Regions from separate parts of the Homo sapiens genome. Here all the other regions are linked to region 4. The links come from fine-mapping of genetic effects on gene expression. A gene starts in region 4. Each other region holds a variant in brackets. All regions are shown on one strand. Distances are from middle to middle. Region 1 overlaps BALR6 (B-cell acute lymphoblastic leukemia associated long RNA 6). Region 2 overlaps BALR6 (B-cell acute lymphoblastic leukemia associated long RNA 6). Region 3 overlaps BALR6 (B-cell acute lymphoblastic leukemia associated long RNA 6). Region 4 holds the start of SATB1 (SATB homeobox 1).

Region 1 (2,687 bases), 200 kb before region 4:
TACTTGTTTTTGTGTTCCCATCTGTCAAAAACAGCTGGAAGTCACAACTAAATTAAAGGTGGAAAATGCTTTGAAAAAGTAATGGGGCCACACACAAAAAATATTACTACTATTTCTTCCCCTCAGCTTCCCCACTCCGCTAAATGAGACATTCTGCAAGGACTGGATACTATTTCTGTCTTTTCACACTTCTCTTGCTAATGTTCAGTGGGCTTCAGAGATCTGATATAAATGTACAGGCGATGTGGAAACTGATTGAGAGGCAGATTTATATTAAAAATTGTATACATATATTTACCACCAGTTTTAATGATGCACTTTTGGTGAAGATGAGTTGCTTAAAACGAAATAGACTTAAGAACATATTACTTAAAAATCATATCATGTGTCTTTTTGCTTCACATTTAAACCAGAAAACAAAATCTATATTCACTGTTAGTATAACGCTTAGAAAAGAAAAGATTTTGTCCATGGCTCCCAAATCAGTAGATTATGGTTGTAAGCCCCAATGAGTTCTAAACCATTTGCCAAAGAGCAAGCACCCACCAACTTCCCTCCCCCTGCCAAACATACACTTCCCTCCTGTCTGATTTATAGAGACCCTTTGTTAGGGATGTAGTAATGAAGCCAGCTGCTGTGTCTTTCTGCAGCCCACTGCACCCCTCCCTCGCCTCATCCCCCAGAACAGTTACTGTCAACACCCTGGGGACACTAGCAGAGAGCTCCCAACAGGAAGTCTGGGGATGCTTTTTGATTCTGTGACCATCTTTCACTTCCTCCTTGAGTCCTCATTCTCACTTTGGTAGCCGAGGTCTGCCCTGCCTGCTACCAGAGTGACAAGAGAGGAGTAAAGAAACCAATAGCAAGATTTGGGTACTTAGAGCACTTTAATGGTACTTCAGGAAAATAAGAGATAAAGCAGAAACCAGGTTTAATAATCATAATAAGAATTCTAGAAGCTGTCTCCCACCACTTTGTGATAAACCCATTATCTCACTTAATTCCTCCCTCAGATGGTCTGAAGTCAGCCTGAAGGTGGAACCAAGACAGACTATTGTGAACACTTAGGCAACAAAAGCGTCAATGTGAAGAGAAGTTCTAGTATACTGTTTTCAGGCTTGGTACTAACCTTCATACTTGGGATGCCCAGCCTGGCTGACTTCTACTCATCTTCTAAGACTCATCACAGACATCGTATCTTTCAGGAAACTTCCGCGTTAGCCTGTCTCTCTACTGACACCCCCTCAGGTGCACTCCCCTGTTCCTAGATATTTCTCTCACTGCAGTTACCACAATCTATTGCCC[G/T]TCTAGACAGTTGGACGATTTATTCTTTGAGAGTAGAGAATGCAACTTGTTCATCTCTGTAGTCTCCGATCCTATTTTTTTTTGCCTTATGTATAGTAAGTGCTCCAAAAAAGTTTGATGAATGAATGAATGAATTCTGAAAGGATACTATAAGAAATGAAAAGAAACTGAATGAAGTTTATAGAAGAAAGAGGTTTTGAGTAGAATTTTAAGGACTGCAGTGTTTGGAGTAAGAAAATATGTTGCCATGTGGAAATGAGGAAGTAAAAGGGTTACATGTAGAAAGTTGTATTTCATTTTGTTTAGCCAAGTTCTGACATTCAGAAAATCGAGAAATAAGGGGAACCAAATAACAGAGAAAGCAATTGGTGGACAGGTAGTTTGAAGCCACTGTGCAAAGGAATTTATTAATGACAGGAGCTACTAACACCACATCGAGTCTGGATGTGCCATGCATCTTGAAAGCTCAAATGTGTGCTAGATTGTCTTGCAAGCTCACAGATTCCAGGAGAGTTATGGACACACTAGAAGGGAATGAAGAAAACCTTTGGCTCTAGGTTTCATTTGAGGCTGCCTTATTCAGCTATACTTCCGATAGCAAAAATGAACCTGCTCTGGAAGTCTACGTTTCTCCTTTATCCCTTGGAAAATAAAATTCAGTTTCACATAAGTCTCTTTACATTTTCATTAAGTTATCAATAGCATCAGAAAATGTTCCTGTTTTCACTTTTTGTTAATTTTTATCTTTTTTGAAAATTATCTATAGCTTCATCATCAGCTGGTGGGCAGAACAGTATGATACCTCAAAAAAATCCCTTATGTCCTGCAGTCATCTTTGTTCTTTCATGAAACACTTTTGAGAGAGGTAACTCCATTTTCTCCTATGTAGACACACACACCCTTCTATGTCATTAGTGATGCATCTTTAGTATCCTCTGTAACAGCCTGCAATGTTGTTTTTTAAATCTTCACTTTTCACAGATGTTGCCACCACATTGATAAAGAAGACCCCAAAAACCATCTCTGGCACCAGAAGTAGCTAGCCAAAAACCTGCATTGCTTCTTCAACACTCCTCCAAACCCTACTCTATTCATTAAAAATGTTTGCCCCTTTCTATCTAATGTATTATCTTAAGGAATTTGCTATTTTTCTCCCAAGGGGAGAAAAAAAAAACTCACTCTTCAAGATGTCACTTTGTTTACTCCATTTAATTATTTAAGAGATTCTTTAAGCCCTTACCACTCAACCTTTACAGTTCCACACAAAAACAAAGCTAATTCAGATGGCTGAGGACCTTTATGCAAATTGAGGTTTTTCAGAGCTGAAAAGGGCACATGCCAGCTTCAGGGCAGGAACAGGCTGGATAGCTCATGTGGAGGGG
Region 2 (2,687 bases), 220 kb before region 4:
TTAGAAGGGCTCTTTTTGAAGAGAAGTAAATCTAGGAATTGGAAAATACCCACAGGGAAATGCTTAAGGTTTAAATTTTTGTGCTTTACTCTTAGACCAACTGGGGGTGATTTTGCCTCTTTCCAACTATTTGGCAATGTTGGGGGACATTTTTTATTGTTACAACTTAGGGCAGGGTGCTGCTGGCATCTAGTGGGTAGAGGCCAGGGATGCTGCTAAGCATATTACAATGCCTAGGACAGCCCCTTACAGCAAAGGATTATCTACCTCTAAATGTCAGTAGAACCAAGGTTGAGAACCCCTATTTTAGACTAAGAATAGCCACATTATGCTCCCTAACTTAAGTTCTTTTCCTTGTAGTTTTAATTCCCATCAGTGGAGTATGTTGTGTACATGTTATTTTGTGCTCATGGTGCTATGGAAGATGATCAGGAGGGGGCAACATGGGGAAACGTGGTCTTCCTCAGATCACCCCACTTCTGAAGTGTATCCCCTGGTGAACGCATCACATCTGGGAGGAAATGAATCTCCAGTTCCAGGCAGTAACCAGCTGCAAAGAACTCAGTGGCCTATTGTGACATTTATTTCTTTGTTGTCTCTGAGTCCCAAGCCCACATTTTCTCTATATTCTACTAGAAGTCTGCAAGCTACATTTCCCAGATTCCTCTGCTGGATAGATTCCCATTAAATTCTGCCTTTGAGCAGCATTGGCAGGAGACTGCAACATGAGAGGATGAGAGAAAGAGTCCTTGGACAACATCTTCCTGTTTGCAGCTCCTGGCACATCTCTTTAGCAGCAGAGGGCAGCTATGGCTCCAGTCTCCAGCTTTTAAAAACCCTTTCAGACCCATCCCTTAGAGGTACCATCATCAGCCCTGTGTCTGGACCCCCTCAGAGACCTAATTATCAGTGTGTGGCACCTCCATCCCTGAGCACTGGCAACATGGGGCCCTTCCTCTTGACTCCTAGGTTTTGGTGCCCATAAATTTTCCTTTTGGTTCCCTCAAACCTAGGAATTGTAGCTGCTTCCTGTGGCTACTATTGCTTCTGGGTTTCCTTCTTGCCATTAATCTTCAACATCTGTGTAACCAATTGCTTTTATTAAGTCCTCTCCATTTGAATATCAGGCATGTGTCTATTTTCTTGAACGAACACTGACAGATATACCAGGGTAGAGCTGAGAGTAAAGAGCAGAAGCAGGCAGTGTAGAACAGACGCTACCACGTGGCTTTTGGGAGGCCAC[C/A]ATGAGTTAGCACTCTTTTCTTCCAAACACATCTAGTAATGCTAGGATGTGGAGAGGCTGACACATTACCCTAGTGAAATGCAGAAGTGTTTGCTCCTAATCTCTGTGGTACAGAGGAGGAACTCTGAGGTTGACTGTTCTTCCTTTTGCATGGAAAGACATCTATCTTTACACTGAGATAAGGGTGAGCAGGATGGGACCTCATGTTTTCCTCAGCTCACATCTCTTCTGGACTACTAGGCATTGTAGCCCTGGCAAAGAAGCTTCCTGACAACAGATGAAAGAAATAGAGAATCCAGATCACTCTAGTGAAGATACAGAGTGGAGAAAACCCTGTCCTGCCCTCACACCAGTGGGGGATACAAAAAGTTCTCCTATGGGGCAAGGGGTTACAGTTAGTCTGTCAGGCCACCAATAATTAATGACCAAGTTTGCACAGACAATAGCGGCAAAGTCACAAATGGTCCTGGCTGACCCATGACAATAAGATGTCAACAATTGTACTAACACACTCCAATTTCAGAGATGTCAAAACATGACCAAATGCTTATTGTAGAATTGGTTGAATATTGAAACTCAGAACCCAGACAGATAAATGGCAAAAAGGCTAATACAAATAGGAGAGTATAAACAAGAAGGCAAATACGTGTCAATAAGAACAAACACTTTGAAAATGGTGATAACTACCCATTAGGATACCAAATTAGAATTTATCGAAAGCCCAGTCCCACAGCAGCTTCCTCTTGGAGGTCACCAGATTCAAACAAATGTCAATCCCTCATTGGCATATGACAAACCTTTTTTTAACCTCTTTGGACAATACACCTTCATGAATTATGTTTTCCCCACAACTCTAGTTATGGATAAAGGCAAATTGGAAAAGCAATCATTTATGCCTTGGAAAATTTCATTATTAGATCACATTGGTTTCCAGCAACACGTTATTTTCTCCGTATGTTTTGTCTTACCACAGTCAGCATGAGTGTCTACTATCCTGAGAAATAAGCCATCCCTTTTAGGAGTTAGTGCTTGAATACCACATGATAACAGCATTTCTCTTCACTTCCCCCATTTGGCTGTGACATTACTTGGACACAGGCACAGAGCATTATGGGTTTATTCATAGCAGCACTACTCAAGGTCTGGACGACCAGACAGAATAGCTAAAACAGCTGATCTAGTTGCAGCAGTGGACCCTGGAGACTTAAGTGGACCATTGAAAAACAGTGTCTTAGTCTTCAAAGAGCTTATGGCTTCATATGGGAGATTGAAAAGTGAACAAACCCACTATAAATCCATATGCTGACTGCTGACATAGAAGTGTGTATACCTGGTGCTGTGGGAGCATAGAGAAATGACAAACTGGACAGTATTAGCGTTTCTGGAAGGTAAGATCAAAATTCAAAATGGAAATTATGTTTGGGATGAGTCTTGATGAATGACT
Region 3 (2,687 bases), 160 kb before region 4:
TGACTTCCGCAGTGTGCTAACATGGATTATTCTTTCATTTGCTGATCCTTGTATGTGCAGTAGGATGTTGAAAGTGGGGGTGGTGGCAGCATATTTCTACATCACCTTGGACTTTACCTTTCTGAGAATCAACATAGGTTTCTAACTTTTTTTATGGCCCTGACTGGTGCTTCAGTAAACCCACGAATAAAAGCAGTACTCCAATCTGCAGAGACTCTAGAAGAAAATACTTTCTATGAACCAAAAAACAAAGAGGAAGCTTCATCATTTAATTTGACTGCTAGAGAAACATCTACACATTTCTCACATTCTTCTCATATCAGAATAAGGGATTGTTACAGATTTTTGACCAAAAATTAAAATTTTCTGAATTTAAAAGGAGTGAGTTGAAATGGAAGCCTATACTTATACTTTTCACTTTTTCTCTGGGATCCCATACAAATGCTTCAAATAACACAAAGGAGATCAAGAGTTTAGAGTGGACTCTGTCATAAACAAGTTCTGTGATGTCACTTTCCTTCTTTGAGCTTCAGTTTCCTCATCTGTGAATGCGAGAATGGATGTCATGTCTGGTGAGGCTTTCTAGTTGGTTCTACCCTTCAGTGATTCATCTGACATTTTTCAAACTGTGCTACAGAAACAAAGAGAATAACAGAGAGGAAGAAACTGATGAGATAAACTATTTCAGTTAGAGATTTGGAGGGGTCTAATTAAAGTTTTATTCTTATGGTGTATAGAAGAAACTTTGGCTATCTGTTGTTATTGTTCCCTGATTATAGCTTTCTGAGCTATAGGAGAACACTGTATTGATGTTGCCAGAAGACATTTCAAGGAGAAGATAAAGAAAGAAATTATTTGACTAGAGCTAATAAATATGTATGGTTTCCTGTGTTGTTTTGTTTTTTTAAGAGAGATTAAGAAATGGAGAGGTTTTTCTCTCCATACCAGACAGAGATACAGAGATGGAGCTTTGCAATCTAACGCAGATCTATTTTGTCCACTAATGCAGAAATAACATCATGTGCATTAAGAAAGCTCTGGATCTGTTTAAATCAATTAAAGTAAAGTTAATGTATTTTAATATCTGAGCTCTTCCCTTATCGATATAACTCTGCCATGTTTTCTTCTCAGAGCCCAAGGTGATGAAAAATAGACTCATTTACTCTATTACATCTTATAACTGTGGCTTCAAGATTTTTTTTTCTTTAGTTGTGAAGCCACAAGGAGATTTTATGTGACTCTAAA[G/A]CTGCTGTTGGTTTTCATACCACAGTACTCAAGGGCATTTCTTACCTTCAGGCTGCTATTGTTTCCAATCTGGAGATAAACGCACACTTGATAAAACTATTTTAATGATGCTAATATTAATACTTTGGTAGAATACTTTATCTGCTAGTAATAGCTTTAAAGAGTTTGTTGAGATTTTGTCATCTCATACATTTTAATAGAATATTAGGTTTGTAATTAACAAGAAAAATACAGTAGCTCCACTTCTCACTTCCTCCATATTCACGTAATGATTACCAGTGGAATATCTGCTGTTCTGTACCCTTAGTAGACCAATCAATATTTTGGTGAATGGAGAAGTCTGAAGCACAGAATTGTAGTGTAAACAAATGAGAAACATTAAAAGTATGCTAAATATTATAGCCAGTTGATTATGTAAATTTAAACAGTGTAGGGGAAAGGAATTGCTTATTAAATTAGTCTGTTTTCAGTTCACTCTGGCATTGTTTATTATACGCCGTAGCCAGATATTTCATAAATAGACTGCTTTTACAACCTGGAGGTTTTGGGAATACCAGCTGATTAATGAAGTGGTATATGTGCTTGGAGGCCATGGTGGAGAGAACTTGTCTTACGATCATTTCCATTTTACAGCTCAGGCCTTCTGTGGGGTACAGACAATGGAGAGAGAGAGAGAATAAGATGAGAACTCTGATGAGCAGTTCATTCCAATATGAGCACCTGTTACATCAATCTGTGAATTGGTTGATTTTTAGCTATGTCCTGTTAGTGATCTTCATAGGAGCAACAGACTAAGATTTTCTATTAATAATTCAATGAATAAGTTCCACTCACAGTACATTTGATTAGCCAACTGTAAGAGTATCTACAAGTTTGTGACTCAATGTTTTGGGACTATCTAAGGAAATCTCAGAGTGACAGAATGAACTGGAAGACATCGTGTAATGATGGATCAGAAACTCATTTGCAATCTAGGAAGGGGAGACCAGATCTGCTATAATGGAACCTATTTGAGAACAGATCATGAAAAAAGACTAATTAAAAAAAACGAAGTTGTCATTTTTGTGTCTTGGAAGCCAAGAAGGGAAAGGCTATTGGGAAAGTCCATCTTCCAGACAAGTGAATCCTAATTTTGAAGACTTCTCAGTCTACCAAAATCTGATGCTCTTAAACCTGTTCATTCCATTTTTCTGATTTCCTAGTAACTCTGGTTTTCATTTGGTATTCTACTCCTTTATTTTTTCTCCACTTGGAGGTCATATCAACCTGGTTCCTTCAGCTTTCATCCTCTCCTTTTTTTCTGTCTATAAGAACAGAAATTCATTTGCTTTTCCAAAGTCCCACCTCTATGGAGTCCTTGAGGTACTTTGCTCTTTGTTAACATGGACACTCTCTCCTGCATCTTCTCTCCCTTAGCATAACTCCTTCTCATCTGCCTAAAG
Region 4 (2,687 bases):
GACTGAGGATTCTCTTAAAAAAAAAAAAATCACTGCGGACAAGGTCTCCAAAAAGGAAAAAAGGTCTCTTCGCGTCTCTCCCTCCCTCCTGCTCACTCGGGTTCTTCGGTGTGAGGACAGAAAGTCTACTTCTGGCTGTCACTTGCAATATTATTCTTCAATAACCCCGAATAACGCGCATTGGGAAGGCCACCTCGCCTCCCTTCCAATCACCCCCACCCCCCTCGCCAACAATCGCGACTAATATTAACAAACCTTAAACTTTTCCCCACAGCCTCGCACCCCCAACGAGGGCATCTAGCGGGGGACAGCGAGGGTGGGGGGCAGGGGGTCGCGAGAAAAGCCCCGGAAAGGCACTAAAATGCCACTTTTGATTCTGCCCTCGCTGACAACAGCCGCAAGGACCCTCTCCCTGCCCATTGACGCGGGGCTGTGAGCGTCTGGGGTCCCAGCAAGTGAGGAGAGAAGAGGTTCGGGGGGAGGGGGAGGAGGAGGAAGATCAGAAGGCACCCCCAGCCACCTCCACCGCCTAGGCAGCGACAAACTCCCCGCCCCCTCCCCCCAAAAAGTCGCCAAGCTCTCACTCGTCCAGAGTCCGAGGTAAACAACGAGCACCACAATGGCACTAGGACTTTGGGGGAAAAGAAACCCAGAAACCCCGACAAAACTGATCAGGAGTTTCCCGAAATGAAAGAGGGGGGCGGGCAGCGTCCTCTAGAGTCGCCCTGGCTTTCGGCTGGGCCCCCGGGCAGGATAGAGGGCGGCCGCGGCTGTTGTTGTTGTGACGAGGCCGGGTGTTGCTGGGTGGCACAGGGAGAGGTGTGTGTGTGTTTGTGTGTGTGCGTGAGTGTGAGCGCGAGTCCCCGGACGGGGCTGCTTCTCTCGCTCTCTCCCTCGCTAGCTCTACCCCTCGCTGCCGTCTCTGCCCCCATTAAATTATTAGTTGACTCATCCCGGCCGCTGTCGCTGCCGCCGCCGTGCCCCGCTCGGCTCCGCGCGTCCGCCCGGGCTGCAGCCCTCTCCGCCGCTGCTCCTGCTGCTGCTGCCGCCGCCGCCGCCGCTGCCGCTGTGGGTGCCTCTTCTTCCTCCTCCTCATTTTAATACAAAATCACCCCGCTCGCAGCCCCAGCCCCGAGCACGCAGCCTCCTCCCGGCCGCCCGCCGCCGCCCGGAGCCTTCCCCAGCGGGGCCGGCTCATCCGCCGCGTCCGGGGAACGGGAGCGAGCGAGAAAGTGGCGGCGGCGGCGGCGGCGGCGGAGGAGGAGGAGGGGGGAGGAGAGGAGGAAGGGGGTGCGGAGCCGAGGAGGAAGGCGGCGTGGGGGGGCAGGGTGCACGGAGCGGGCGGAAAAGGGATGGGGATTAAAACCCGGGCTGGAGGGCCGGGATTGGGGGAGGGGGCGGGGGCGGCGAGTTAAAAAGCCGAAAGACAAGTAACTAGTGAATGAGTGAGGGAATGGGGGGAGCGCACGATTTCCGGCCCCGGGCGCGCAAGAATTTGTAATGAGCTTGATTAGAGTGAGGCGGCCCGACATTTATTACACACAATACCCAGAATAACAGGGCGCTGTGCGAGGGCTAGCGCCGGCCGCCGCCAGACGCGCCAGGGAGGGCGCAGAGGGGAGGAGGAGAGGGGGCTTCCCTGGCAGCGTCCGCCGGAGCGGGGAGGGGAGCGCGCGGCGCGCGGGCGGCAGGGGCAGGTGTGTGAGTGGGAGGGAGGAGGGGCAGGACGGGCAGGACGGGCACGGGGGGCGGGGGGAAGGAAAATGACGGGGAGGAGGGGGCGAGGGCCAGGGGAGAAAACTAACCAACCACCCACACGCCACAAAAGCCACAAAAAGGAGTACGCCTGGAGCGTCGCAGAGGGACAGGCGAGGTGGGGGGACAGGGAGACGCACCGGCCCCGTGGGAGAAGGGCGCGGGTACGCAGGTGACAGGCGCTGAGGAATGAGGTAGGGAGCCATCAGGAAGTGGCTGGAGGGGTACAGACGGAAGGCAGTTCTCTCCGGGGAAGCGCGGAGGGTGCAGAAACGTGTACAGCAATAAAGGCCAGGAGCCTCGAAACGCTCGGAATGTTTATCCTCTAAGGAGGGTGGTCCTTAAACTATGAGGAGCCAACATTAGAAAGAACTGAGTAAGAGCGTTCTGTACTAGTCAGACGTTGGTTCAAATCGCCCTCACTTCTGAGCCATAGAATACTTTGGAAGAAGAAATACGTGGCCGAGTTAAACAAAATTTGGGTCACTTGAAAGAGACCTGACTTGTTATTATAAAGGAAAAGATGCCATCATTCTTCAAATAATTTACGCTAGGCAAAAGAGGAAAGTTTGGGTTGGTAAATACATCTGTTGTAGCAATAAACACTTCTGCTGTAATCTAGGGTAGGTTACCCAGTTAGATAAATGGTCATTACCACATAAGTATGATCCTATTATTTAGACAATCTATTAAATATAGTTCATGTAAAAATAAAGAATATTACAATGTAACCCAAAATAGAAATGCCTCATTTATCGCTTAGGTTTTAGTTCTACCATTTTAGCACCCTGAAGGCAGTTAATCATTAACAAAAAACAAGAATTATTTTTCAGAATTTGCTGGTAGGGAAAAGAGAAAAATCAGTCAGATAAACATTTTGTTACACATAAAAAAGCAACAAGTTAGCACAAGTACTGAGATAAAAGGGAAAT

Evidence for each region. PIP is the estimated chance that this variant, and not a neighbour inherited with it, causes the effect. A credible set is the group of variants that fine-mapping cannot tell apart.
Region 1: its variant is the best candidate, but not a certain one, in a credible set for the expression of SATB1 in whole blood (TOPMed, PIP 0.57).
Region 2: its variant is the best candidate, but not a certain one, in a credible set for the expression of SATB1 in whole blood (INTERVAL, PIP 0.86).
Region 3: its variant is the best candidate, but not a certain one, in a credible set for the expression of SATB1 in whole blood (INTERVAL, PIP 0.54).

Annotation. Positions count from the first base shown.
Region 1 is chr3:18,223,034-18,225,720 of GRCh38, forward strand. All of the region lies in intron 4 of BALR6 (B-cell acute lymphoblastic leukemia associated long RNA 6), which reads left to right. Among named protein-coding and RNA genes, the nearest start is that of SATB1, 200 kb to the right of the region's middle. The variant G/T (reference allele first, on the strand shown) is at 1,306.
Region 2 is chr3:18,207,774-18,210,460 of GRCh38, forward strand. The region is part of intron 4 of BALR6 (B-cell acute lymphoblastic leukemia associated long RNA 6); the gene reads left to right. Among named protein-coding and RNA genes, the nearest start is that of SATB1, 220 kb to the right of the region's middle. The variant C/A (reference allele first, on the strand shown) is at 1,244.
Region 3 is chr3:18,268,675-18,271,361 of GRCh38, forward strand. It overlaps BALR6 (B-cell acute lymphoblastic leukemia associated long RNA 6), which reads left to right. Exons shown (of 5, transcript NR_161333.1): 5 at 1-248. Among named protein-coding and RNA genes, the nearest start is that of SATB1, 160 kb to the right of the region's middle. The variant G/A (reference allele first, on the strand shown) is at 1,246.
Region 4 is chr3:18,424,106-18,426,792 of GRCh38, forward strand. SATB1 (SATB homeobox 1) reads right to left here and starts at 1,234. Exons shown (of 11, transcript NM_002971.6): 1 at 1-1,234.